7 linked regions of the Homo sapiens genome follow. The protein of the gene in region 1 purifies or fractionates together with the protein of each later gene. This does not show direct contact. Each region holds a gene or a part of one and is shown in the gene's direction. Other genes may lie near its edges.

Region 1 (3,708 bases):
AAGTGCCCTCAGTGTTTTAAATCATTTAAACCTCCCAATTCTACAGGGCTAGGGCTGTCACAACAAACTGAGTGACTTAAACAACAGACAAGTATTGTTTCACAGATCTGGAGACTAGAAATCAGAGATCAAGGTGTTGGCAGGTCCGTGCTCCCTCTGAAGGAACTGGGGAGGGATCTGTTCCAGGACTCTCTCCTAGCTTCTGCCAATTCCCTGGCTTATGGCAGTGGAAATCAAATCTTCATATGGCGATTCTCCATGTGTGCATGTCTGTGTCCAAATTTCCCCTTTTTATAAGGATACTGATTATATTCGCTTAGGGACCCACTCTAATCCCATATAACCTCATCTTAGCTAATTACATCTACAATGACCCTATTTCCAAATAAGTTCACATTCTGAGTTACTGAGGGTTAGGGCATATGAATTTTTAGGGGACTCAATTCAACCCATCACACCTATGATACTATTATTCTGATTTTATGTATGAGGAACAGAGAGGCACAGCAGGCAAGTGATTTGCCTATGGTGAAAAAAAATGAAAATGAATTGTTAGTTTCCATTTTTCAAATTCACTTTATCACTCTCACTTTACTTTTAGGAAGCAAATATTAGACTCCCCATGCAGACATCCAACATTTGTGACACAAGCATGTCTGTTGGTACTGTTGGTGGCCAGGGAATCAAAACACAGCAAAGTTTTGAGATGGTCAAAGGAGGCTACACTTTGGATTCCAACAAAGGAGGTGGACATCAGACCTTGGAGTCCGTCAAGGGAGTGGGGCAGGGAGATACTGGCAGATATGCGTACACGGACTGGCAGAGTTTCACCCAACCTCGGCTTGGCGAAGTAAGTTCCACTGTCTTTGAGGTCATATTACATGGAAGTTAAATGCTAGTTATAAATCAGAATTTCCCAAAAGTTTTACTCCTCATATACCTGGAATTCAACATCTTTTACCTGTTGGATTATCATAGATGTGGATGTCTGGTTTAAACCCAAAGATAAAAATGATCTTTGAAAATTCACCTTTGAAAATACAGTTTACAAAACTTTATCTAGGAGTGCCATATGTAGATGTGTTTACAAAGGATAAAAGGTTCATAGCCTCTTCCCTAGAAATTAACAGGAAAACCAGCTGGAGTGAAATATTTATTATACAGGAATGAATGGATCATAAATTATAAACATTTCTCAGTGTGCTTGAGTTCTTTGTGTGGTTATGAAGTCCTGGCTATCAAAATCAACCAGATAAATTGTTGAGCTTTTATTTTGAGTTTTAGTTCCTTGTTTTGTTTTATGTTCAGATTAATCAGTATAGGTTTGATATTAGCCAGTTTAATATATTACACTATCACAGTTATATAGTAGTGTATAAACATAGGAATCATAGCCTATATTGGTTTTCCTCAAATACGTGAAGAAGCTACAAAGGTAAATTTCAAATATACATGTTTTGTGTTCAAATGGGAAATTATAAATGTGTTGCGTGATATATGCGTAGTCTTAATTTTTTAAATGTGCTCACTAGAAGCATTTATTTATTTGCTATATTTTAAGAGTGACTATAATACAGACCAATCCTGTGCATTTTTTATATATAGGAATCCATTAGAGGACACACTCTGATTAAAAATTAAACAGTAAAAGGTAAATCAAAGACATCATTTTTCTGCTAATATGTTTAGGTGTTTTTTAAAAAATAATAAAATGTGCTCTTTTTTGATACAGAAGGTGTATTTGTGTGGACAAGATGAGGAGCATAAACATTGTGAAGACTACGTTTGTTCGTATAACTATGAAGGCAAAGGTTCTCTGGCCGGCTCAGTAGGTTGCTGCAGCGATCGGCAGGAAGAAGAGGGACTGGAGTTTCTAGATCACCTGGAACCCAAATTTAGGACATTAGCAAAGACATGCATCAAGAAATAAATGTGCCTTTTAATAGTGTAATATCCACAGATGCATAAGTAGGAATTTATTACTTGCAGAATGTTAGCAGCATCTGCTAATGTTTTTGTTTATGGAGGTAAACTTTGTCATGTATAGGTAAGGGTACTATAAATATGAGATTCCCCTACATTCTCCTTGTCTGGTATAACTTCCATGTTCTCTAGAAATCAAGGTTTTGTTTGTTAATTCTCTTTTATATGCATGTATATATTGCCCTTTTCACGACTGTACTGTACACCTTCTTGCACCTTTTATTTGCAAACTGATGTTACTTTTTGTGCTGTGGAAGAGCATTTGGGAAAGCTGGGTATTATAGAGGCCAATGAAAGATGAATTTGCATTGTAGATGTACGAATTAAATATGTTCTTCAAAATCTTGGGGAGAATTATGTTCTTAGAACATAGTTGGTGCCAGATAATTGCATTCTCTCCACCTGAGTGGTTTAAAAAGGACTTTTAAGTATTCTTCAGTGCAATCTTCAGTTTTGTGATTAAGTTCATTTCTCTTTTACACTTTTGTACTCCTCAGAGCAGTGCTCCCAGCATTGTTTTCTTTCAGGATCCTTCAGAGCTCAGTCCCTGGACCTCTGCCCATGTGGATTTGTTGTTAGGTCACTCCAACTTCTAGGGTTCTTGGAAAGATAAGGACCAGAACAAGCTCATAGCAAATTGAGGGGCAGAGATTTTATGAAGATTACATGAGAAGATTTCCATGAAAGAATTGCAGCCCTGAGGTCCATGGGTTGACTTATGCTCACAAATATGTTTCGTTTGCTCAACATGGTTTACTACTAACATTTTAAAAATATAAATACTTTAGCAAAAACATTCACTCTTGAGTTTGACATAGGCCTGCCTTATCTGTGGTTGCCACCTGCCATCTCCAAGCATTTGGACAACTAGCCCTGATGCATTAGGCTGCAACTCTGATATACAGAGACTAGCACCTTGAATATGCCAGAAATTGAATTACCATCTGTATTAGAACTTAAGACTCAGCCTAAATTTACAGTTACTTTAAGAAAATGGGCAGTCAGAATTAGGGACTAGAATGTATATGAGAAACCCCCACTCTACTAAAAATATAAGAAATTAGCCGGACATGGTGGCGAATGACTGTAATCCCAGCTACTCAGGAGGCTGAGGCAGGAGAATCGCTTGAATCCAGGAGGCGGAGGTTGCAGTGAGCCGAGATTGCCACTGCACTCCAGCCTGGGCAACAAGAGCGAAACTCCGTCTCAAAAAAAAAAAAAAAAATTGAAATCAATTACAGCAACACTTACCAAACATTTGTAGAATGATGAATAAATGAACGCACACATTCAGAAATAATTTTGAATGTATAACATTTTAATAGGATAGTATATTTTATTAATCTAAAAAGAAACTATATATTTAAATAGCATTTTCGTAGTCATTTGTGGCAAACTCTATAAGTCTATAAACAATAACAGTATGGAAATTTCTCATCCAGAAAAAACAAAGACTTAAAAAAATCTATTAACTAGATATTTTCTAACTAGTTAACTATTTTTAAAAATGAGTGGCTTTTTAAAAAAATTTTGTGACTAGTCTTCTAATTCTCAGTTCCAAATTAAAGGCGCTTCTTGATATGAAATTGGATATTGGATCAGAAGAAAAAAGTGATTTTAATAAATCAGATTTTATAAGGTATCCATAACATATAATTTTTATAACCATTATAAAATATTTTTGTGGTCATGCAATTTTTGTTCTCTGATGTACAGGTTGCTCTG
Region 2 (4,087 bases), on another chromosome or scaffold:
ACATAAATCAGGTTACAGACATTCAAGTTGGAGTGAGGGAGAGGAGCATGGATATAGTTCTGGGCACTCAAGGGGAACTGTGAAATGTAGACATGGGTCCAACTCCAGGAGGCTAGGAAGACAAGGTAATTTATCCAGCTCTGGGAACCAAGAGGGATCTCAGAAAAGATACCACAGGTCCAGCTGTGGTCATTCATGGAGTGGTGGCAAAGACAGACATGGTTCCAGCTCTGTAGAACTGAGAGAAAGAATAAACAAGTCACACATTAGCCCTTCTAGGGAATCTGGGGAGGAGTATGAATCTGGATCTGGATCAAACAGTTGGGAAAGGAAAGGTCATGGTGGTCTGTCATGTGGATTGGAGACTAGTGGGCATGAATCAAACTCTACTCAGTCAAGAATTAGAGAACAAAAGCTTGGGTCTAGCTGTTCAGGTTCAGGAGACAGTGGGAGGCGAAGTCATGCATGTGGTTATAGCAATTCAAGTGGGTGTGGAAGGCCACAAAATGCTTCAAGTTCTTGTCAGTCACATAGATTTGGAGGGCAAGGAAATCAATTTAGCTATATTCAGTCAGGCTGTCAGTCAGGAATTAAGGGAGGACAAGGCCATGGCTGTGTCTCAGGAGGTCAGCCCTCTGGATGTGGTCAACCTGAGTCTAACCCCTGTAGTCAGTCCTATAGTCAGAGAGGATATGGAGCTAGAGAAAATGGTCAACCACAGAACTGTGGAGGACAATGGAGAACAGGCTCAAGTCAGTCCTCTTGCTGTGGACAATATGGGTCTGGAGGTAGCCAGTCTTGTAGTAATGGTCAACATGAATATGGTTCCTGTGGCCGCTTTTCAAACTCTTCTAGTTCAAATGAATTTTCCAAATGTGATCAATATGGGTCTGGTTCAAGTCAGTCTACTAGCTTTGAACAACATGGAACAGGCTTGAGTCAGTCCTCTGGGTTCGAACAACATGTATGTGGCTCAGGTCAAACTTGTGGCCAGCATGAGTCTACATCAAGTCAATCCTTGGGCTATGACCAGCATGGGTCTAGCTCAGGTAAGACATCTGGCTTTGGACAACATGGGTCTGGCTCAGGTCAGTCCTCTGGCTTTGGACAATGTGGGTCAGGCTCAGGTCAGTCCTCTGGCTTTGGACAGCATGGGTCTGTCTCAGGACAATCCTCTGGTTTTGGACAGCATGGGTCTGTCTCAGGACAATCCTCTGGTTTTGGACAACATGAGTCTAGATCACGTCAGTCTAGCTATGGCCAACATGGTTCTGGCTCAAGTCAATCATCTGGCTATGGCCAATATGGGTCTAGAGAGACATCTGGCTTTGGACAACATGGGTTGGGCTCAGGTCAATCCACTGGCTTTGGCCAATATGGATCGGGCTCAGGTCAGTCCTCTGGCTTTGGACAACATGGGTCTGGCTCAGGACAATCCTCTGGCTTTGGACAACATGAGTCTAGATCAGGTCAGTCTAGTTATGGCCAACACAGTTCTGGCTCAAGTCAGTCATCTGGCTATGGCCAACATGGGTCTAGACAGACATCTGGCTTTGGACAACATGGGTCAGGCTCAAGTCAATCCACTGGCTTTGGCCAATATGGATCAGGCTCAGGTCAGTCCTCTGGCTTTGGACAACATGTTTCTGGCTCAGGACAATCCTCTGGTTTTGGACAACATGAGTCTAGATCAGGTCATTCTAGCTATGGCCAACATGGTTTTGGCTCAAGTCAATCATCTGGCTATGGTCAACATGGGTCAAGTTCAGGACAGACATCTGGATTTGGACAACACGAGTTAAGCTCAGGTCAGTCTTCCAGCTTTGGCCAACATGGATCAGGCTCAGGTCAGTCCTCTGGCTTTGGACAACATGGGTCTGGCTCAGGACAATCCTCTGGCTTTGGACAACATGAGTCTAGATCAGGTCAGTCTAGCTATGGCCAACACAGTTCTGGCTCAAGTCAGTCATCTGGCTATGGCCAACATGGGTCTAGACAGACATCTGGCTTTGGACAACATGGGTCAGGCTCAAGTCAATCCACTGGCTTTGGCCAATATGGATCAGGCTCAGGTCAGTCCGCTGGCTTTGGACAACATGGGTCTGGCTCAGGACAATCCTCTGGCTTTGGACAGCATGAGTCTAGATCACATCAGTCCAGCTATGGCCAACATGGTTCTGGCTCAAGTCAATCATCTGGCTATGGTCAACATGGGTCAAGTTCGGGACAGACATCTGGCTTTGGACAACACAGGTCAAGCTCAGGTCAATACTCTGGCTTTGGACAACATGGATCAGGCTCAGGTCAGTCCAGTGGCTTTGGACAACATGGGACTGGCTCAGGACAATACTCTGGTTTTGGACAACATGAGTCTAGATCACATCAGTCTAGCTATGGCCAACATGGTTCTGGCTCAAGTCAGTCATCTGGCTATGGTCAACATGGGTCAAGTTCAGGACAGACTTTTGGATTTGGACAACACAGGTCAGGCTCAGGTCAATCCTCTGGCTTTGGCCAACATGGATCAGGCTCAGGTCAGTCCTCTGGCTTTGGACAACATGAGTCAGGCTCAGGAAAATCCTCTGGCTTTGGACAGCATGAGTCTAGATCAAGTCAGTCTAATTATGGCCAACATGGTTCTGGCTCAAGTCAGTCATCTGGCTATGGTCAACATGGGTCTAGTTCAGGACAGACAACTGGCTTTGGACAACACAGGTCAAGCTCAGGCCAATACTCAGGCTTTGGACAACATGGATCAGGCTCAGATCAGTCCTCTGGCTTTGGACAACATGGGACTGGTTCAGGACAATCCTCTGGTTTTGGACAATATGAGTCTAGATCACGTCAGTCTAGCTATGGCCAACATGGTTCTGGCTCAAGTCAATCATCTGGCTATGGTCAACATGGGTCAAATTCAGGACAGACATCTGGATTTGGACAACACAGGCCAGGCTCAGGTCAGTCCTCTGGCTTTGGCCAATATGGATCGGGCTCAGGTCAGTCTTCTGGCTTTGGACAACATGGGTCAGGCACAGGTAAATCCTCTGGCTTTGCACAGCATGAGTACAGATCAGGTCAGTCTAGCTATGGCCAACATGGTACTGGCTCCAGTCAATCATCTGGCTGTGGCCAACATGAGTCTGGCTCAGGTCCAACCACAAGTTTTGGACAGCATGTGTCTGGCTCAGACAATTTCTCTAGTTCTGGACAACATATATCTGACTCAGGTCAGTCCACTGGATTTGGCCAATATGGTTCAGGCTCAGGTCAATCAACTGGCTTGGGCCAGGGTGAATCTCAACAAGTAGAGTCAGGATCCACAGTTCATGGGAGACAGGAAACTACTCATGGTCAGACAATAAATACCACTAGACATAGCCAGTCTGGTCAAGGACAATCCACACAGACAGGGTCCAGGGTAACTAGAAGACGAAGATCTAGCCAAAGTGAGAACAGTGACAGTGAAGTGCACTCAAAGGTCTCACACAGACATTCAGAACACATTCACACACAAGCTGGATCTCACTACCCAAAGTCAGGATCCACAGTTCGCAGAAGACAAGGAACTACTCATGGACAGAGAGGAGATACCACTAGACATGGCCATTCTGGTCATGGACAGTCTACACAGACAGGTTCCAGAACATCTGGAAGACAGAGATTTAGCCACAGTGATGCCACTGACAGTGAAGTGCACTCAGGGGTCTCACATAGACCACACTCACAAGAACAAACTCACAGCCAAGCTGGATCTCAACATGGAGAGTCAGAATCCACAGTTCATGAGAGACATGAAACTACTTATGGACAGACAGGAGAGGCCACTGGACATGGCCACTCTGGTCATGGACAGTCCACACAGAGAGGGTCCAGGACAACTGGAAGAAGGGGATCTGGCCATAGTGAGTCCAGTGACAGTGAAGTGCACTCAGGGGGCTCACACAGACCACAATCACAAGAACAAACTCATGGCCAAGCCGGATCTCAACATGGAGAGTCAGGATCCACAGTTCATGGGAGACACGGAACTACTCATGGACAGACAGGAGATACCACTAGACATGCCCACTATCATCATGGAAAATCC
Region 3 (4,087 bases), on another chromosome or scaffold:
TAGTCCCCACTTTTTCTTGAGAACACTTCTTATTTACAGCTACTCCTTTCTCCAATGCCTAACATCTTTCCACCCACCTCCTCCTTTATCATCTCCACCTCTCTGCAGTACCATCTACTTCTACCTCTTTCTCTTCTTTTCTTTCTCCTTTAAGGTATGTGCCGTCCAGGTGAAAAACACTGGGAAGATGTATGCCTGTAAGAAACTGGACAAGAAGCGGCTGAAGAAGAAAGGTGGCGAGAAGATGGCTCTCTTGGAAAAGGAAATCTTGGAGAAGGTCAGCAGCCCTTTCATTGTCTCTCTGGCCTATGCCTTTGAGAGCAAGACCCATCTCTGCCTTGTCATGAGCCTGATGAATGGGGGAGACCTCAAGTTCCACATCTACAACGTGGGCACGCGTGGCCTGGACATGAGCCGGGTGATCTTTTACTCGGCCCAGATAGCCTGTGGGATGCTGCACCTCCATGAACTCGGCATCGTCTATCGGGACATGAAGCCTGAGAATGTGCTTCTGGATGACCTCGGCAACTGCAGGTTATCTGACCTGGGGCTGGCCGTGGAGATGAAGGGTGGCAAGCCCATCACCCAGAGGGTGAGTGACTCTCCACCTGCCCCAAGTGCGGGGCACAGAGTTGGAAAGGAGGGGAGAGGGCTTTTCTATTCCCAGGGCAAATAGAGCCTTGGACTTAATTCTTTTGGTTTTTTTTCCTAAAGCGCTTACGTTGTCATCTTGCCTTAAGATGAGTGGTGTAAGAGGATTAGATTCATTGGCTATTTGAGGGCTACTTTGCTCTCCTCTCACAGGGGATGGGGGAGCCTCCTTTGTGAGTTGGGGATGGCCTGTGCTTTTGTGATGAGATGGAAAAAGCTGAATCCATAGTCATGGTCCGGGTGTGTCAATAACCACCTCTATGGTGCTGTGTTCCTGAGCCAATAGAGCCTTGGGTTCCTTTTCTGGAAAATGAAGGGGCTGGACCCTAAAATTCCATGATCCTAGGAGGTAAACTTTAATCAGATAAGAAAAAGAATGATCCGGCTGGGTGTGATGGCTCACGCCTGTAATCCCAGCACTTTGGGGAGGCCGAGGCGGGTGGATCTGCTGAGGTCAGGAGTTTGAGACCAGCCTGGCCAACATGGTGAAACCCCATCTCTAGTAAAAATACAAAAATTAGCCAGGCATGGTGACAGGCGCCTGTAATCCCAGCTACTCGGGAGGTTGAGGCAGGAGAATCGCTTGAACCCAGGAGGCGGAAGTTGTAGTGAGCCGAGATCATGCCACTGCACTCCAGCCTGCTCGACAGAGCAAGACTCTGTCTCAAAAAAAAAAAAGAAAGAAAGAAAAAGAAAAAAGAAAAAAAATAAAGAAAGAAGGAAAAAGAATGATCCTCTCACACCTAGAACATTAAAAGTAAAATATCTCCTTTCCTGTTTAGTGTGGAATGGGCGAATGTTTTGCATTGGATGAAGATGATATTTTAAATGAAAATATATGGAAGAAAACAAAGGCAACTGATGTTTATTTTAATCAGTTTTGTTCAAAGTGACTTGCTTAAAATTCTTTGGTTAAAAAGAGAATTATAATTAAGCGATTATGTTAGGTGAACGACGGAAAATCTCTGGAATTCTAACATCTTTACCTCTGAGTCTCTGTGCACAAAGGTGGGAGATTCCACAGCAAGGCAAGGGCTCAAACCTGGCTCTTAAATGGTTACTTAAAACCTCATTTTTGTACAGTTTTCAGCCTACAGGGCCCAAAGGAAATGAGAAAAATCATGGCAAGTTTGGGAAACTGCTGTGGTGATTTTATGTGGCTGTAATGGAAGGGATGTTGACAAGACTGAAGGGCTGGGCTTTCACAGGTGCTGGAATGCCTTCTTGTAGGGGAAGAGGGGTTCTTGAAGGGTTTTAAGAAGGGAAATGACATGATTAGATTTCTGTCTTAAAAAGACCAATGCGGCAACAATTTGGAAGTTAGATGGTAGGTGGGGACATCAGTTAGGAGGCTAAGGTAGTGAGTGGCCCAGGCAAGAAATAATGGGGGTCTGTACAGGACAGTGGGATTGAAGAAGTGGGAGCAAATTGGAGCTTTTGGAAAGAGATCTGATGGGACTTCAGGACCAGCTGGGTATGGGGGTGAGGGGAAAGTGAGGGTCTCTAGCTCCAGTGGCCAGAAGGAAGAGCAGATTTGTAGGCAAGCTGGCAAGTTTAATTGTGATTATGCTGTCTATGAGGTTCCTGTAGAAGGGACAGGCAGAGATGTTCACTAGGCATTTAGATCTATAGGCCTGGTGCTGTGGAGGAAGACCTGGGATAGACGTGGGGATTTGGAGTTATCATGGTTTGGGAAGCAGAGGGCACTGCTGAGTCACTGGGAAAGAGTAGGGGAAGAAGACCAGGAACAGAAGCTGAAAAACACCAACATGTGGGGGTATAGAAGAAAAGGAGCCCTGAAGAGGTTTAAGAAGTAGAAGGCTACTTGGGAGGCTGAGGCAGGAGAATGACGTCAACCCAGGAGGCGGAGCTTGCAGTGAGCTGAGATCACACCACTGCACTCTAGCCTGGGCTACAAAGCGAGACTCCATCTTAAAAAAAGAAAAAAAAAAAAAGAAGTAGGAGGAAAGGCAAGAGTGATATAGTCATAGGAGCTGTATCAGTTAGAGATGGGTTTCAGGGGCATATCCTAGAAAACCCAAATAACAATAGATTAAACAAGACAGAGGTTTATTTTTCTTATGTAACAGGGTGTGGAAATAAGCACTTGCCAGCATTAGTTCAGCAGCTGCAGAATAATGGGATCTGCATCTTTATAATTCTAGCCTTTTCCATGTGCTGCAAGATGGCTGCTGTAGCCCCAGCCATCAGGGCCATGTTCCAGGTAGGAGAAAGGAGGAAGGGTCAGGAGTAAATAGGCATGCATGCAGCAGTTGAGTGTGGCCCCCTTTAGGAGCTTTCCCTGAAGCTCCATCCAACAGCTTTCACTTAGATGTCACTGGCTAAGACTGTGATCTGGCCACCCCCTAGCTGCAGAGGAAGCTGACAAATGACATTCTTGAAAATTCTTTGGTTAAAAAGGGAATTATAATTAAGCGATTATAATTACTGAATTATATCTGGGCTGAGGAGAAGATCACCCGGCTCATGTCCAGGCCATGTGTGCCCACGTTGTAGATGTGGAACTTGAGGCAGGGGTGAAGGAGCGGGTTCTAGTTAGTAAGGATGAAGAACAGCTGGATATTGAGCAGGTAACTAGCAGCCTCTGCCACAGGAGCCAAAGAAGAGGATTTCAGGGAGGAAAGTGTGGTCAAAGTGTCAAGTGTTGCAAAGAGGTAACGTCGCCTGTGGGATTTGGCAATTAGGAAATCAGTGTAAGGGAATGGTGAGGTCTCAATTCAGACTCTGGAGGCTGGATTGATCTAGAAGTAGGGAATGAGACTCTGGAAGGGGGAGACTGGTCCCTAGAAGGGGATACAGTGGGGAAATGGAGTTTTGAGATGGGGAGGGCAGAGCGGGTTTAGATGCTGAGGCAAAAGCCAGCAGAGTAGGTGTTGATCCTGTGGGAAGGAAAGACAGTAGATGATGGCAGAGAATGTGGGGAGGAGCTGAAGTAACACCGTCTCCTCTGTGGGTGGGAAGGAGGAGCAGGCCAGGGAGGTGACAGAGTGTTTGCCTCCTTGGGACATTCCTATGAACACAGGAACGCTGTGAATCGTGGATCCATGTCTGCCTAGGCTGGAGAAAACTGAAGTGCAGCACTTCACAGTTTGGCATTTGTATTGTCCATTGTGCTGAGCAGGAGCGTTCCTTCTGAGTCGCCCATGGACATGTATCACACTAATTGTTGCTATATCTCGACCTTGCTGGAGGCTTAGGGGACACATAGAGCTTTGGCTCACTCCAGTCTCCTTTCTCAGTCTCCTCAGGCTCTGTTCATGGGCCATGGCCATTTGGAAGGACAGCTCCTTCCTTGGCTCCCGGGTGCAGCTCTCTGGCTCATCTGGAACGTGCAGGAAGGTTTCTGTGCCTCCCCAGTGCTGTCCGCTACCAGGAACGTACTTAGTAGAGAGGCTCACTGCCTACAGACCTTTGG
Region 4 (4,087 bases), on another chromosome or scaffold:
AGGGGGACCGTGTCCATTGAGGCTCCTCCCCTGACTGTGAGGCCAGGCAAGCTGTAATGGTATAAAATGGACATGTTTGGGGACACTGGCCTGGGAGCCAGGACACCTGGGGGTCAGGGGACAGGGTGGAAGCTTCCCCTCTCAGCTTCAGAGTCCCCATCTAGGAAATGGAAATGACCAGGTGGCACTGGATGAAACATACAAATTACATACATGCAACTGCAAAGCACCAAAGAAGAAAATACTCCCAAAACCCAATGCAATTAACCTGACATCAAGGCAACCACTGCGCCTGACACTGAGCTCAAGACAGAGCTCAAGACGCCAAACCACTGCGCCTGATGCTGAACCACTGCGCCTGACGCTGAACTCGAGATAGAGCTCGTCTAGTGCCGGGGGAGTTGCTGGGCTTCCTGGGAGGGGCTTGAGATGTGTGTGCGCGCACACACACACACACACACACACACACACAGTTACTTGGGTGGGACTTACAGTGATTTTGACCTGGGTCATTTCTACTGTGTGTGTCTCCAGACCCAAGTCTCTGGGGAAGGGGTGGCTCAACTCAGAGGAGGGTGGGCAATGCTCTAGTGCCCAGCTGGGCACACTCACCACAATTGCTGTCCAGGCTGACCGTAAACCAAGGCTGACTCCTGGTGCCGTCCCTGCTCCTGGGGGAACGGGGGGTCGTGGGAAGCCCTCATGTTGCTGAGAAGCAGGAGCCGTGCTTTTTTCCAGGTTTCACTTGAAAAAGAAGATGAGGGTCTGGCGGGACTCCTTCTTGGTGGAGAGAGGGTGAGTGCCGGGTCCTGGGAGGGACACCCCTGCCCACCTCCCTCCCTCTGCCCAGGAAGCTTCTGTAGCCCCACCGCATCATGCTATTCAGGAGCTGCCCATGGCTCTGAAGTTGGTCCAAAGGCCCCTAAACACAAAGCCCATTCACTGCTCCTATAGACACAGAATTGGGGTCTGAGGTCACGTGTACGCTTTTGGCATGCTTTGTCCAGCCTCTACAATGTCTTCAATTTATTTAATTTATTGCCAACTCATGCAATTTGGGAAGTTTCTTATAAAATTCCAATGTCTTAAGTTTCCTAAACATCAGAAGACCCGGGCAGGTGGCCCTGCGCCCTCCACTGTGAGGAAAAGCCGGAGCCGAGGGGGCACCCCTCTAGGTGGGCACACATGCCTCCGGGGCTCCTCCAGAGCTGAGAGGCCGGCCCCGCGGCTCCTGCTCTCTGCCCCATAGCAAGCTGCTACACAAGAGAGACAATGACAAGGTGGACGCCCAGGAGGAGAACTTTCTGCCCAAGTACCAGCGTGTGAAGGACCTGTGTCAGCGTGCTGAGTACCAGACGGCGTGTGAGCAGCTGGGACAGGTAAGAAGGCTCCCTTCCCTCCCAACGGCTCCCCCTCCTGACTGCAGCCGGCCCTGACCTGCGAGGCTCTGAGAGCCGCTGAGCCAGCAGGGCCAGGGCCTCCCAACGGGTAGTCCTTTGCTGCCGTGTGGTGCCCAAGATGCTGTTTGGTGGTGCAGGATGATGCTCACAATAAGTGATTCATTTCTCAGCAGCCTTTGGACCCTGACCGTGTCAGAGGCCAAGTGTCCCGTGGGTGTGTGTATGCCCTTAGCGCCTCTCTAGCCCTTGCCGATCTCTCTTGCACGAAGGCCCCAGCAGGAGTTAAATTATTTTATTTTCACCATATTCACTTTGACAGTATCCTCTTTGTGACTGGTTTTCCTTTTATAGGAGTAATAAGACATGGCTTTTTAAAATAAATATAGGTAAGGTTTTAAAAAGTGAATTGATTGCAAGAGAAATATTAAGGAAATTATGGCCAGGAACAGTCCGTGGCTCATGCCTGAGGTCCCAGCTACTCCAGAGCTGAGGCGGGAGGATGGCTTGAGCCCACGTGTTGGAGGCTGCAGTGAGCTATGATTGCGCCACTGCACTCCAGCTTGGGTGACAGAATAAGACCCTGTCTCTAAAAACATAAGAAAAAAGAAAATTATCTGGGAAGTATCAGAGATAGCCAGAAACTGACATGTTTGGGAAAGCCTGAAGGAGGCTTTTCTGAGGCTGGAAAGCCAGGGCAGGCTTGGAGAGGAGGGTCGGGGGCGGGGCAGGGCAGGGAGGGGAGTGGGATGGAAACTCTGCCTTGGCTGGCCCAAGGGGTGCCGGAGGTGTGTCCCTGCCCTGCCTGTCAAAGGCTGGGACTTTGAGCTGGGGCTGGAGCTGTGTGCCTGTTTCACCTATGAGAAAAAGCAAAACCAGGGCCCTGGTATTGAAGGCCAAGGCCTGAAGTGGATGCGTTTCTGATGGACTGCATTTGAATGACTCCATCTTAACACTGCACACAGAATTAGTACAGGCCCATACAGGCCTGACTGTGCCTCCCCACCCAGTGTGTGTTTGTAAACCCACAGACCCCTCTTAGTCACACAATTAACCCGTATCTGCCACCGGGCAGGAGCTGTGGATTTCATCCCTCCGTTGTACAGCATGAATGCGTCCCCCCGCTTGCCAGGCACTGTCCTAGGCGCAGGGCCACAGCCTCGAACATGCTCAACAGAAGCTCCTGCCCTCCCAGAGCTGATGTTCTGGAGAGAGTTCAGCCTTGACTTTGTACCGAGATCCCAGAAGTGGTTCTGATTTTAGTTCTGGGCTAAAAGGAGTGAAATGAGGAGGCCAGGAAGTCTTTGCCCCTCGACGAGGGAACGTTGTCAAGTCCCCCACTGGTTCTTTCTGATGTCTCCCCTGACCCAGATCAGGGCTTGGGCAGCCAGAATGACCTCTTTGCTGGGGCCAAGAAAGAGGAGGTATCAGCATTTTCCAAACAATCAGAGCACACCACTGAAGCCAAAGGAAGAGAGTGCTGAGGGCGGAGTTTGGGGCACTTAGCCTAGGCCAGCTGGGAGGCAGCAACCCACGGCCCCCGACCCAGCCCCGGAGCTTTGGGGACCTCAGGCTCAGACGTCTGCCCCCCATCCCAGGCAACGGCCCTGCTCACAAGCCGGTACTCCCCGAGTGCCGTTGCCATGTCCCTGCTTGTGCCGTGCCTTCTGGAATGCCCTGCCCAGTGTAGAAGCTGTACCCTGTGGCCCGAGGACGTCTCTTAGGGGCCTCACACCCAGCCATAGCATTGTCTTGGGTACCTTGTCCGTGCTACCCCACGTGGTAGATGTTTTTTTGTCATTTGCTGAACAAACGTGCCCAGGAACCGAGCTCATGTGCATCTGTCTGTCTCCCGGTGACACGGGGACATCCTAAGGGCAGGGCCCGGCTAGAATTCATGTCATCATTGCCAAAGCCCAGACCAGGGCCCAGGCCGGGCAGGAGTAAATGTGCCCTGGGCACCTCGTAATGATGATCATCACGGGCAACACGTGAGTGTAAGCTCTACCTCCAGCCACCCTATCTGGCAGGTATGTTCTGTACACGGGGAAACTGAGGCCCAGGGCTCAGGCAAACTGCCCACAGCCTCACAGCTTCAAGTGGTGGAGGCAGGATTTGAACCCAGGTAGTTGGGCTGCGGGACCTTCGTTCTCAGCAGCTGTAGGGACCCCAAGTCAAGCCGACACTGGCCCAGCCCTGTGGGGCTCAGGCGCCGCCCCCGCCAGGACAGCCTCGGGACGGGCCATGTGGACACGGCTTCTACATGAGTAGTTGCAGGGGCAGCAAACCCTTTCCGCACAAGATCAGACAGTAAATAGTTTGGGCTTTGCAGGCCACATATTTGTTTTTGTTCTTGCTTTTTACAACTCTGAAAACGTACAATGTAAAAACCGTCCTTGGTTTGCAGGCCATACAAAAACAGGCTGTGGGCTGGAGTTGACTAGCAAGAGGGCTGCTGTTTGCCGACCCCTCAAGTCGTGCCCCAGCTGAGTTTGTTGGGTTGGAGCGGGGAGCAGGCAGTGGGGAAGGAGAATTCCAGGCAGAGAGAGCTAAGTGGACAGGAGGCTGCTCGCCAGCGCACACAGCTCAGGGCTTCACGCAGAACTCAGAGCCCTGGCTTTTCTTGAAAAATCAGACCTGGGCTTCTGGGCCTGTGCTCCCCTCTGGCGACAGTCAGATGGGTATAGCCG
Region 5 (4,087 bases), on another chromosome or scaffold:
AAAAAAAAAAAAAAAAAAAAAGTTTCTGGCCTTTGGAACAATGAAAGCACTGCTTCTCTTTGATTTCTCTGGCTCTGCTCTGATTCGTTGAGGCCTTAATGTCTAAAAAAGATTTATAGTAAGGATAAAGGATATGGAAGGATGGAGTTGAGATGTAAAATGACTTTAAGAAATAATTACTGTTGAAAGAAGTGTAGAATGTGCAAGGTCATGTAACTTATATTCCCATTAAATTGTTTTGTAAGTCAATAATCACTGTAGCAGGTTACAAACTGAAGTAATGGCCACAAAAGTCAAATACAGATAATTCCACATCATAAATATGGTTTGTTTCCACTTGCTTAATTTCTTAAGGGTTAAATATTCTCTCAGCATAATTTGTTGAATATGGATTAAGACAGTATGAGAGTGTTTGCCATGTCTAGAGAATACCTAATTTACAATAATTTATTTTCTAAATGATCACTTTCATTGTTTTTATGTCTAATATTTTTAGGTATATTACAACTGTTCCTGTATTGAAAGGAAAACAGAAATAACATCCACTGCAGAAACTTTTGGTTTTGAAGCTAAAGCTGGAAAATGTGAAACTCATTGTGCGAAACTGCCCATATTCCTTTGCATTTTCTTTATTGTAATTATTTTTACCTTTATGGCCGGTACTCCTATAACTGTGTCTATCCTAAGGTATGTAGCACGTTGAGAAATTTTCATTCCCTAAGGCAACATGTTGATGGAAAACAAATGGACTCGGGGTTCATTTGGGGTTCATATTGACCATTGGTTCAATACCAATCAGCCCTTACAAGATCATTAGTTCTGTGGCATTGGACAAGCTCCTCTGTAGAACCCCAGATGTAGGAGATTTAAATGATATGCAGGTGAAAGTGTCTTCACATTGCCTGCCTGGCTTGTGCTTGGTGTTTTCTCTGCTTCTTTCATGAAGCTTCAGGTGTGAGCTGGAGAAACGTTCAGTTTTGAGTATCATAGAAATAAAATGCATTCCAATATGCCAGAATCAGAATGGCATGCATTCTACCTTATGCATTAGGCACTGTGACGTTAAATCTTCCTTAAGCAGTGCTAATCAATAAGAAACTGGCTATTACCTGTGTTGTTCACCTGTGTTTTATGTTTCCAGTTGCTCTTCCTCCTTGTATCCCACTGCACAAACACATTCCATACTTGTACATTTCATACCTGTCCTTCCATAGAGTCATCAGTCTTTGTATATCTTTCCTAATGAATTATAGCTTTTTTCTTTTTTTGTTCCTTAGTATTTACTCACTACATTTTCTTTTTTTACTGTTTATTTAATTTTTATTTTAAGCTCAGGGGTACATGTGCAGTTTTGTTCTTTTTGCTTAGAGTAGCTTTGGCTTTTCTGCACTGAAGCCATTAGGTCCTGGGCTTTTCTTTACTGGGAGACATTTCCTTACAGCTTCAATCTTGCTACTTGTTATTGGTCTGTTCAGGCTTTGGATTTTTCTTGATTCCATCTTGGTAGGTTGTATGTATCTAGGAATTTGTCCATTTCTTCTTGATTTTCCAATTATTGGCATATTGTTGCTCATAGTAGCCACTCATGATCCTTTGAATTTCTACAGTATCACTTGTAATGTGTCTTTTTATTTCTGATTTTATTACTTTGCATCTTCTCCTTTTTTTCTTAGTCAGGCTAAAGGTTTGTCAATTTTGTTTAATTTTTCATTGATCATTGGTATTGTTTTCTTCATTTCAGTTTCATTCATTTCTCCTCAGATCATTATTTCCTTTCTTCTACTAATTTTAGGTTTGGTTTCTTCTTGTTTTTCTAATTCTTTAAGATGTATCATTAGATTATTTATTTGAAATTTTTCCTTTTTTTTGATGTATAGCTATAAACTTCCCTATTAGTACTTCTTTTGCTATATCCCATAGATTTTGGCATGTTGTTTTCATTATCATTTGTTTCAATAAATTTTTCAATTTTCTTCTTAATTTCTTTATTGACCCACTAGTCATTCAGGAGTATATTGTTTAATTTCTATATATTTGTATAGTTTCCAAAATTCCTCTTATTAATTTCTTGTTTTAGTCCATTGTGGTCAGGGAAGATGACTGATATTATTTCAGTTACTTTGAATGTTTTAAGACTTGTTTTGTAACCTAACGTATGGTCAGTCATTGAGAATGATCCATGTGCTGACGAAAAGAGTGTGTATTCTGCAGCTATTGGATGCAATGTTCTGTAAATATCTATTAGATCCATTTGGTCTATAGTACAGATTAAGTCTGATGTTTCTTTCTTGATATTCTATCTGGAAAATCTGTCCAATGCAAAGCATGGGGTGTTGAAGTCTCCAGCTATTATTGTATCAAGGCCTGTCTCTCTCTTTAGCTCTACTAATATTTGCTTTGTATATCTGGGTGATTCAGTGTTGGCTACATATATATTTAAAATTGTTATATCCTCTTGCTGAATTCACCCCTTGATCATTATATAGTGACTTTCTTTGTCTCTTCTTATAGCTTTTGTCTTGAAATCTATTTTTTCTAGGTATAGTGACTCCTATTCTCTTTCAGTTTCCATTGGCATGGAATGTGTTTTTCCATTTCTTTATTTTCAGTCTATGTGTGTCTTTATAGGTGAAGTGTCTTGCTTGTTGGCAACAGGTCAATGGATCTTGTTTTATCATCCATTCAACCAGGCTGTGTTTTCTGATTAGAGAGTTTAGTTCTTTTAGATTCAGTGTTATTGATAAAACAAACAAGTAAAAAGAAAACTAATAAAAACTCTACACCTTAACTTTGTCCCCTGGCTTTTTATTCTTTTGTTGTTTCTATGTATATCTTATTGTACTATGTCTTGAAAAGTTGTTGTAGTTACTATTTTTTATTGGTTCATCATTTAACCTTTCTACTTAGGATAAGGGTAGTTTACACACCACAGTTCCAGTGTTAGAATAGTCTGTGTTTTTCTTTGTACTTATCATTACCAGTGAGTTTTGTACCTTCAGGTGATTACTTACTGCTCATTAATGTTCTTTTTCTGATTGAAGTACACCCTTTAGCATTTCTTATAGGACAGGCCTGGCATTGATGAAATCCCTCAGCTTTTGTTTGGGAAAGTCTTTACTTCTCCTTCATGTTTGAAGGATATTTTAACCAGATATACTATTCTAAGGTAAGAGTTTTGTTCCTTCAGCATTTTAAATATGACTTGCCACTCTCTCCTGGCCTATGAGGTTTCCACTGAAAAGTCTGCTGCCAGATGTATTGAGGCTCCACTGTATGTTATTTGTTTCTTTTCTCTTGCTAGTTTTATGATCTTTTCTTTATCCTTGATGTTTGAGAGTTTGATTATTAAATGCCTTGAGGTAGTCTTCTTTGGGTTAAATCTGCTTAGTCTTCTATAACCTTCTCGTACTTGGATATTGATATCTTTCTCTAGGTTTGGGAAGTTCTCTGTTATTATCTTTTTGAATAGACTTTCTTACCCATCTTTTTCTCTACCTCTTCTTTATGACCAATAACTCTTAGATTTTCCGTTTTGAGGCTATTTTCTAGATGCTGTAGGCATGCTTCATTGTTTTTTATTCTTTTTTCTTTTGTCTCCTATGACTGTATATTTTCAAAAAGCTTGTTTTCAGTCTCACTAATTCTTTATTCTGTTTTATCAGTTCTGCTACTAAAGGACTCTGATGCATTATTCAATACGCCAATTGCATTTTTCAGCTCCAGAATTTCCACTTGATTCTTTTTTTGTTTTGAGATGGAGTCTCGCTCTGTTGCCCAGGCTGGAGAGCAGTGGCCATGATCTTGGCTCACTGCAACCTCTGCCTCCCAAGTTCAAGTGATTCTCCTGCCTCAGCCTCCCGAGTAGCTGGGATGACAGACGTGCACCACCATGCCCAGCTAATTTTTGTATTTTTGGTAGAGACAGGGTTTCACTATGTTGGCCAGGCTGAGTCTCAAACTCCTGACCTCAAGTGATACATCTGCCTCAGCCTCTCAAAGTGCTGGGAATTGCAGGTGTGAACCACCATGCCTGGCCAATATTATTTCAGTCTTTTTGTAAAATATATCTGATAGAATTCTGAATTCC
Region 6 (4,087 bases), about 32 Mb from region 1:
GATGGAGGCAGAGACTTGAGTGATTTGTCTACAAGTCAAGGAATGTCAAAGTTTGCTGGCAACCACCACAAGCTGAGAGAGAGGCATGAAACAGATTTTCCTTGAGAGTCTTGAAATGAACCAAATCTGCTGATATCTTGATTTTGGACGTTTGTCCCCCAGAACCATGGGAGAATAAACTCCTGCTATTTAAACCACTCAGTCTGTGGTAATTTCTTATGGCAGCCCCAGGAAACGAATTCACACTACTAAATGAAAATAGATCTCTGTCTATCAATATCAACACCAATATTTATATACAGGGATGATAATGACCTTAGTTTTCCAGTTCTTAATAGCATACTGAATAATTGTGCATGATTGTATTTCAGGTATGTAAAATAAAATTGTTTGTTCACTTATTTTCTTCCAATCACCATTTTCTCTTTCTCCTTTTTTTTTGGTTTTAGATCGTTATAAGTTTTACAATGGACTCTCTTGTTACAGCAAACACCAAATTTTGCTTTGATCTTTTTCAAGAGATAGGCAAAGATGATCGTCATAAAAACATATTTTTCTCTCCCCTGAGCCTCTCAGCTGCCCTTGGTATGGTACGCTTGGGTGCTAGAAGTGACAGTGCACATCAGATTGATGAGGTACGTGTCCACTAGGGTGCTACACAGGGTCCTAAACTCTGGGTCCACACTCAAAGTCAGACCCTAATCCCACTTAGGCAAGCCAAGGGGCTTATTGCACCCTGGGCTTGGTCAGAACCCATCCCTGTCTCTGAGTCTTTATTTGTATTTTCTCCATCTTACTTCCTCTTCGATCCTACCATTCTTAAAGTCTCACTTAAACTTGTACCTTCTTTAGGGTGCTCCTCAACTTCATGTCTGGCAGCTTTTCTCATTCATCTCTATCTTTATCTCTGTATGCATGTCTGTCACTCTTTTACTCTATGATTGCTAATACCAATATTGCTAGCGATTTTTAGTATGTGTATATGTCTTCTGTCTCACTCATTTCATTAAATAAATATTCATTAAGTACCATATATGGTTCCAGTGGCTAGAGAGCTTGGTGTCCTCCTGGACTCTTTCTCTCTCACTTTATACCACATTTGTTAGAAAATTCTGTTGGCTTTTCTTTTGAAAGATATCCATAATCCAGGCACTTCTCCCAGTCTCCTTGAGGTCTGAACCACAACCATCTTTTCTCACCTGGATACTGCAGCAACTTCCTGATGGGCTTTCCTGCTCTCACTGGCAATCTATCCTTTGCACAGCAGTCCAAGAGACCCTTTTAAAACCTGAGCCAGATTCTATTTCTCATCTGTTCAAAAACCTGGATTTCTTATTTCACTCATGATAGCAGTTCAAGTCCTTACAATGGCCCACAAGGATCTGGAGATCTGAATCCCAGATAAGCCCTGTGACTCCATCTCTCACTTTCATCCCTCCTCACTGTACCTGTCACATTGGCCTCCTGGCTTCCTTGGGTAAGTCATGCCCATCCTATCTTGGGGCCTTTGCTCTCGGTCCCTTTGCCTGATGGCTCTTTCCCCTGGTAACTGACCTCAGCTCACTTTCTTCTTCAAGACTTTGATCAGTGTTTATCTCCTATACGGGGCCTACTTTGACCTCCTAATCTAGTGCTGCATCCTGACCTCCAGACCATAAGGGATACTTTTGTAGGCACCTAATAAACATTTCTAGAATAAATAAATGAAGGTAATAAGAACAAATCCCCAAATAAACTACAAGTTCCCATGGTTGGCCTTATACTTCCTTGGATGTAGCACATAGTGCGGGGGTTATGCACAACTCAGGCTGTTTCCCCTGAATATGGAGCAGTAGAATTTATGGATTAAGACAGAATGTGTTTCTGGGGTCATTCTGCTTTATTCATCTACTAAGATTTGGTGTATTATTTTCTTATTCCATTAGCAAAACTTAGCTTTAGAGTGTGGTTTGCATCTTGCAGGGCAGAATTCAGATGTTCTTTCTTAGGCAGTTGAGGGCACCTGCTGACCAAATGGGTCTGAGTAGTGCAGGATATGACGCCTGTCTCCTACCTTTCTACCAGGCTCTGGATAACTTGTCTTTTGCTGTCCTCACTCCCTTGATTCATGTGAAACTCTAGATCAGCACTGTCTGACACAAACATAATGAGAACCACATAGTAATTTAAAATTTTTTAGTAACTGTATTGCAAAAGTAAAAAGAAACAGGTGGGACTAATTTTAATAATAATTTTTTAACCTAGTATATGCAAAATATCATATCCACATATCATCAATATAAGAATTTTAATGAGCTATTTTATTTATTTATTTTTTTATACTATATTCAAGATCTGGTGTGTATTTTGCACTTACAGTCAATTCAGATTGGGTATCTATGAAATGCTCCATAGTTACATTTAGCTTGTGGATACCTCTATGTTCTTTTAGTTTGGTTATATTTATTCATAAATGCTCTCCCAGGGTAGCGGTTGGTTCTTCTCCTCGATTCCACCTCCCAACCCAAGTACAGAAGCACCCACTTTCCTTTAAACTGTTGTTGATTGTTTTGTTTGACTATGTAATCATTGCCATTGTCTCATTATGAAATGTTTCTGAAGTTATTCAGGCTTCCCTCTGTTCATATTATCTGAAAGACCCCATCCCGTTATCATGCAGGTACTACACTTCAACGAATTTTCCCAGAATGAAAGCAAAGAACCTGACCCTTGTCTGAAAAGCAACAAACAAAAAGTGCTGGCTGACAGCTCTCTGGAGGGGCAGAAAAAAACGACAGAGCCTCTGGATCAGCAGGTGAACCGCCACCGTAGAAAACTCTTGCCTTTCTTTTTTACAAACTGCTTATTCTGGCTGTAGGATATTTGGTGATAGTTGCTTATCCCCAAATATTAGACTCTGGATACCATCAACAGCAATAACCTCATGTGATCTGTGATTCCTGAGTATGGATCTCAGATGTCCTTGGCTATCAGCTAGTTTCCTAAAGAGTAGGATCTGGTGTCTTCTGCTTATGATAAAGAAGCCTAGATCATCACTCTGTCCCTCATCTGCTTCTATAGGCCACAGGGCCCCAACACAGAGTATGGTCAAAGATAAAGGTGGTAAGGGGTAGGGTCAGCTGTGGAATTCTTACTGTCTCCCTCTATCTCTGCTTGTTCCATTTCGTGCTGAAATCTGCACTGACAGACAAAACTTTTATTGGTTGCCTCATGCCAGGAGGAGGAAAGATATTATCCAGGGTATGCATCCCCCTACTTTAGAAAGTTTAAGAGGAGGGTGGATAGATGATTGTCTTTCTTTCTTTCCTTCCTTCTTTCTTTCTTTCTTTCTTTCTTTCTTTCTTTCTTTCTTTCTTTCTTTCTTTCTCTCCTTCTTCTCTCCTTCTCTCCTTCTCTCTTTCTCTCTTTCTTTCTTTCTTTTTGTTTTTTCTGAGATGGAGTTTCGTTGTGTTGCCAGGCTGGAGTGCAGTGGCGCAATCTCAGCTCACTTCAACCTCCGCCTCCTGGGTTCAAGCAATTTTCCTGCCTCAGCCTCCAGAGTAGCTGGGATTACAGGCATGAGCCACCATGCCTGGCCTCTTTGAAATGTAAAGAAAATCAGAGTGTGTCAGTCTGAAATATAGTGAGCGTTGCTGAGTTCCCCAGATGTATTTTTCCTGGATGATCTTGATATAGATGTGGGAGCCATAATCTTCCACTGGGACCACTTCTCACCCTCCATTCCTCTGTTCTTCCCAGCTCACTTCCCCCAGCATGGTAACAGAGACAGCTGACATCTTACTAAGAAGCTCTATCTTGCTTCTGTACAAAACACGCATCTTTTAGCGGTGTTTAGCTCTTCTGATAGACACAGTGAAGGTCACATTTTGTTTCTTCTTTCCTTAGGCTGGGTCCTTAAACAATGAGAGCGGACTGGTCAGCTGCTACTTTGGGCAGCTTCTCTCCAAATTAGACAGGATCAAGACTGATTACACACTGAGTATTGCCAACAGGCTTTATGGAGAGCAGGAATTCCCAATCTGTCAGGTGAGTTGCACACGAATGGTGACTAAAGCTACCATGTAGCATACTATTTAAAAATCAGGGA
Region 7 (4,087 bases), on another chromosome or scaffold:
ATAAAGCTTTCTGGTTTTGTAACATAGTAACATTTTATATTGCTTTCAAGTATATCACAGGTAATGAATGCATCTTCTATAATTTTCTACTTAAGGCAAAATAAGTGAAACAATTACGGCAAAATAAGCTTAGCGAAACAAAGCAGACTCCAATAAACACTGCACCATTTCCTTCAGAAGACTATGACCTCTTAAATCAAAGGATTTGAAAACTCTGAAAATAACATGCCCCCATAACTGAATTTAAAATGATTTTGCAAAGTGCCATTATCTTCCGTAAGTTCTTATTTATTTGAGCTCTTTATAATGTGAATAAAGGGAGTTTTCAAATTATGAATATATGATACTCCAAAACTTTGTTCATTTGTTCATTCGTTCTTCCATCCATTTGGCAGACATTTATGATAAGCCAGGATGTGTTACTGAGGACCATTCATATAATAATACTGTTGAAACTTATGTCTGAAATTAACATCTTCCATATCCATTCAGAAGTCCACAACAGGCTAGGGACCATTCTGGGCTTATTACAGGGTCCCAGGTGTGGCTTCCTGCTTCTTCTCCAGGCCTTGTACAGAGAGTGTGTATGGAAGCATTCCTTGGCTGCCTCTGTTGTGAAGACTTAAGGGCTCATAACACACACATTACCCCTCATTTCTCTTTGTAGATCTGACTGTTGGGTTCAGGATTTCATGGAAAAAAAAGGACAATGCTCCCCACAAGAACACAGCAATGAATTATGTTTAGCTCACAAGAAGAGTGGTTTTTCTAGTCACCAGATATTTCATTGAATAAAACCAACGTTTAACGTTTAGAAGAAATATCTTTTAATAAGTTTTAATAAGTTTTGTGGGGGTTTTGTGTGTGTGTGTGTGTTTGGTTTTTTTTTTTTTTTTTTTTTTTGAGAGAGTCTCACTTTGTCAACCAGACTGGAGTACAGTGGCATGATCTCGGCTCACTGTAGCCTCAACCACCTGGGCTCAAGGAATACTCCTCGCGCCTCAGCCCCCCAATTAGCGGGATCAACAGGTGTGCATCATCATACCTGGCTAATGTTCCTTAGTTTTTATAGAGATGAGGTTACGCCCTGTTGCCCAGGCTGGTCTCCAACGCCTCGGCTCAAACAGTCTACCTGCCTCAGCCTCCCAAAGTGCTAGGGTTACAGGCGTGAGCCACCTTGCACAACCAGTAAGTGTTTGTTTGTTTGTTTGTTTGTTTGTTTGTTTTGAGATGGAGTCTCGCTCCGTCATTCAGGCTAGAGTGTGGTGGCACGATCTCAGGCTCACTGCAACCTGCCTCCTGGGGTCTAGCAATTCTCCTGCCTCAGCCTCCCGAGTAGCTGGGATTACAGGCATCTGCCACCACACCCAGCTAATTTTTGTATTTTTAATAGAGACGGGGTTTCACCATGTTGGCCAGGCTGGTCTCAAACTCCTGGCCTCAGGTGATCTGCCTGCCTTGGCTTCCCAAACTGCTAGGATTACAGGCGTGAGCCACCGCGCCCTGCCCAGTAAGTTTTTTAGAACATAAAATTACCCAAACTCTACTGTGTTATATGCAAAGTAAGTTTTCGTGGAAAGTGGTTTTGTAGCATACCAGATAAATTATTTCTGTCTTTCACCTGTTTCATCTCTGGTGTATTATCAGGTCGCCTCTACCTTGCCCAGAACACAAAGGTGCTGCAGATGCTGGAGGGAAGGCTGAAGGAGGAGGACAAGGATATCATCACCAGGGAGAATGTTCTTGGGGCCCTGCAGAAGTTCAGTCTCAGGTAACGACTGTGCAATAGGTCACGGTGTCTCCTGTGAGATCAGATTGAGTTAAAATTCCCATGGCAACCCAGGAGGCAGATGGTATTTTTCCACTACACTTTGGAGAGGTTGGATGACTTTCTAAGACAGAGCTAGAAAGCTTATCTGTAATCCACTAAACTATCCTGCGCAAGGCTGCTGGGGATGGAGGAAGACATTTTCAAAGCATCATTGGATTTTCCTAATGGACATTATCGAGTGCCAGCCATGCAGGATTGTGTCTCAGGGCATGTGCAGGGCTTAGAGACAGACACATGAATCAGACCTGATAGAGCCTCAGCCCTCAAGTTACTTCCAGTCCCCTGTGGGAGCTGCACACATGAATGCACATCCCAGCAGAGTGTCAAGGGCAGTTCTGTGGAAGTCAGGGTTAGGGCCTCCTGACCTTGTCCATGATCCCAGCAGCCCACCCCATGGGATCAGCCTAGACCGTCATGACTTGGAACCAATGGGGCCAGGCTAATTTCTGTATTTCTAGTAGAGACAGGATTTTACCATGTTGGCCAGTCTGGTCTCGAACTCCTGACCTCAGGTGATCCGCCCACCTCAGCCCCCCAAAGTGCTGGAATTACAGGCGTGAGTCACCGCACCCGGCCCCGTAGGTTCCTTTTTAGTTTACAGTTTTGTTGAGATGTATTTACACACCATAATATTCCCCCATATTAAGCATACAATTGAAGGATTTTTAGTGTATTTACAGAGTTGTGCAGTCATCACCACAATCCAGGTTTAGCACATTTCCATCACCACAAAAAGAAACCTCATACCCATTTACAGTCACTCCTCATTCCTACCCCCAGTCCCCGGTAGCCACAAATCTGCTTTCTGTCGATTGACTTGTACTGGACGTTTCATATAAATGGAATCATGTAGTGTGCACTCTTTTGTGACTGGCTTCTCTCACTTAGCATCGCGTTTGCAAGGTTTGTCCATGTAGCAGCATGTGTCAGGGCCTCATTCCTTTTGTGGCTGAATATGTACTCCATTATGGCTACATCATATTGTTTGTTTGTTTTTGAGATGGAGTCTCACTCTGTCACCCAGACTGGAGTGCAGTGGCGCAATCTTGGCTCACTGCAACCTCCGCCTCCCGGGTTCAACCAATTCTCCTGCCTCAAACTCCTGGGTAGCTGGGATTACAGGCGCACACCACCACACCCGGCTAATTTTTGTATTTTTAGTAGAGATGGGGTTTCACCATGCTGGTGAGTCTGGTCTCGAACTCCTAACCTTGTGATCCACCCGCCTCGGCCTCCCAAAGTGCTGGGATTACAGGTGTGAGCCACCGCGCCCGGCCTACACCACATTTTGTTTGTCCTTCAGTTGATTGGCATTTGAGTTGTTTGCATTTTTGGCCAATATGCATAATGCTGCCATGAATGCTTCAGCACAAGTCTTCGTGTGGACATATGTTTCTTTTTCTCGTGGATCGGCATCTAGGAGAGGAACTGTTGGGACATATGGTAATTTTTTCAGAGTTTTTATTCTCTCATGATCACCTCAAGTTCTCTTTGACTTTCTTGAGAACTCTAGTCCCTGGAGTCTTCAACTTTTTTCTGTCGGTCCTCTTCTGAACACACTTTCTTCCCATCAAATGTGGTTTACATTTGACTGACTCACAAATAACCAGAAGCCTACAAAGTGAAATGGTCTAAGCATGTGTGTTTTTAGTGGGGGAAGGGATAGGTATTTGTATCTACCATTTGCCAGCTCCCTGCCAATGAAAATTCTTTGTTCTAACTATATGAATCGAAAAGAACTGTAAGTGCTGCAGAGTCATTACTTCCTCAGAGCATACAAACACTTCATTTCTTTTTGTTTATAGAGAGAACTTTGCTCCATGTTGATCGCTTTGGGGAAGTTTTTAGAAATTCAATAACTATAGTTAAGTAACAGATACAAGATATGGTGAAAAAAATACTTCCTCCTGGTAATGCAAATGTTTACTGCCTGTTTATCTTTTCCTCTAAGTGTTAATTTAAGCTTTTTTGTTCTGTAAATGTGCTTAACCTTTTTGCAGTTTTCCAGAGTCTCTGCAATAAATGAAGAAGGTAGCTAGTTACCAAGAGAGCGCAGTCTTCACTGTATTCTAATAAGCCACCCTGATTGGGTCAGTGTAGTGTTTAAGAACAGGATGAACGGATAACTGGTTCTGCTGTTCTGTCCTGAGTGGTGGTTTCACCATAACCTGCGCATCCGGAGATGTGCAGAGCTGGCTTCTCTGTGGCATGTCAGTTTTCTACTAATCCAGATGGCATCTCATAATGATACCACAC

What was found.
Region 2: the proteins of DSC1 (region 1) and FLG2 purify together in Homo sapiens (affinity purification with mass spectrometry, with the first as the bait; one large-scale study listed by BioGRID). This does not show direct contact.
Region 3: the proteins of DSC1 (region 1) and GRK7 purify together in Homo sapiens (affinity purification with mass spectrometry; one large-scale study listed by BioGRID and IntAct). This does not show direct contact.
Region 4: the proteins of DSC1 (region 1) and SULF2 purify together in Homo sapiens (co-immunoprecipitation; one large-scale study listed by IntAct). This does not show direct contact.
Region 5: the proteins of DSC1 (region 1) and SLCO4C1 purify together in Homo sapiens (affinity purification with mass spectrometry; one large-scale study listed by BioGRID and IntAct). This does not show direct contact.
Region 6: the proteins of DSC1 (region 1) and SERPINB12 purify together in Homo sapiens (affinity purification with mass spectrometry, with the first as the bait; one large-scale study listed by BioGRID). This does not show direct contact.
Region 7: the proteins of DSC1 (region 1) and ARMC9 purify together in Homo sapiens (co-immunoprecipitation; one large-scale study listed by IntAct). This does not show direct contact.

The regions. Positions count from the first base shown.
Region 1 is NC_000018.10:31,128,736-31,132,443, reverse strand, and holds the end of DSC1 (desmocollin-1 isoform Dsc1a preproprotein), read left to right. Parts: intron 1-601; coding exon 602-850; intron 851-1,605; coding exon of another isoform or gene 1,606-1,641; exon of another isoform or gene 1,642-1,651; intron 1,652-1,732; coding exon 1,733-1,930; 3' UTR 1,931-3,208; downstream 3,209-3,708. UniProt on the Homo sapiens protein: A component of desmosome cell-cell junctions which are required for positive regulation of cellular adhesion.
Region 2 is NC_000001.11:152,353,328-152,357,414, reverse strand, and holds part of FLG2 (filaggrin-2), read left to right. Parts: coding exon 1-4,087. UniProt on the Homo sapiens protein: Essential for normal cell-cell adhesion in the cornified cell layers. Important for proper integrity and mechanical strength of the stratum corneum of the epidermis.
Region 3 is NC_000003.12:141,780,220-141,784,306, forward strand, and holds part of GRK7 (rhodopsin kinase GRK7), read left to right. Parts: intron 1-154; coding exon 155-592; intron 593-4,087. UniProt on the Homo sapiens protein: Retina-specific kinase involved in the shutoff of the photoresponse and adaptation to changing light conditions via cone opsin phosphorylation, including rhodopsin (RHO).
Region 4 is NC_000020.11:47,673,786-47,677,872, reverse strand, and holds part of SULF2 (extracellular sulfatase Sulf-2 isoform a precursor), read left to right. Parts: intron 1-738; coding exon 739-795; intron 796-1,249; coding exon 1,250-1,379; intron 1,380-4,087. UniProt on the Homo sapiens protein: Exhibits arylsulfatase activity and highly specific endoglucosamine-6-sulfatase activity. It can remove sulfate from the C-6 position of glucosamine within specific subregions of intact heparin.
Region 5 is NC_000005.10:102,243,852-102,247,938, reverse strand, and holds part of SLCO4C1 (solute carrier organic anion transporter family member 4C1), read left to right. Parts: intron 1-496; coding exon 497-687; intron 688-4,087. UniProt on the Homo sapiens protein: Mediates the transport of organic anions such as steroids (estrone 3-sulfate, chenodeoxycholate, glycocholate) and thyroid hormones (3,3',5-triiodo-L-thyronine (T3), L-thyroxine (T4)), in the kidney.
Region 6 is NC_000018.10:63,555,693-63,559,779, forward strand, and holds part of SERPINB12 (serpin B12), read left to right. Parts: intron 1-449; coding exon of another isoform or gene 450-467; coding exon 468-635; intron 636-2,659; coding exon 2,660-2,794; intron 2,795-3,885; coding exon 3,886-4,026; intron 4,027-4,087. UniProt on the Homo sapiens protein: Inhibits trypsin and plasmin, but not thrombin, coagulation factor Xa, or urokinase-type plasminogen activator. May play a role in cell differentiation.
Region 7 is NC_000002.12:231,271,308-231,275,394, forward strand, and holds part of ARMC9 (lisH domain-containing protein ARMC9), read left to right. Parts: intron 1-1,647; coding exon 1,648-1,771; intron 1,772-4,087. UniProt on the Homo sapiens protein: Involved in ciliogenesis. It is required for appropriate acetylation and polyglutamylation of ciliary microtubules, and regulation of cilium length. Acts as a positive regulator of hedgehog (Hh)signaling.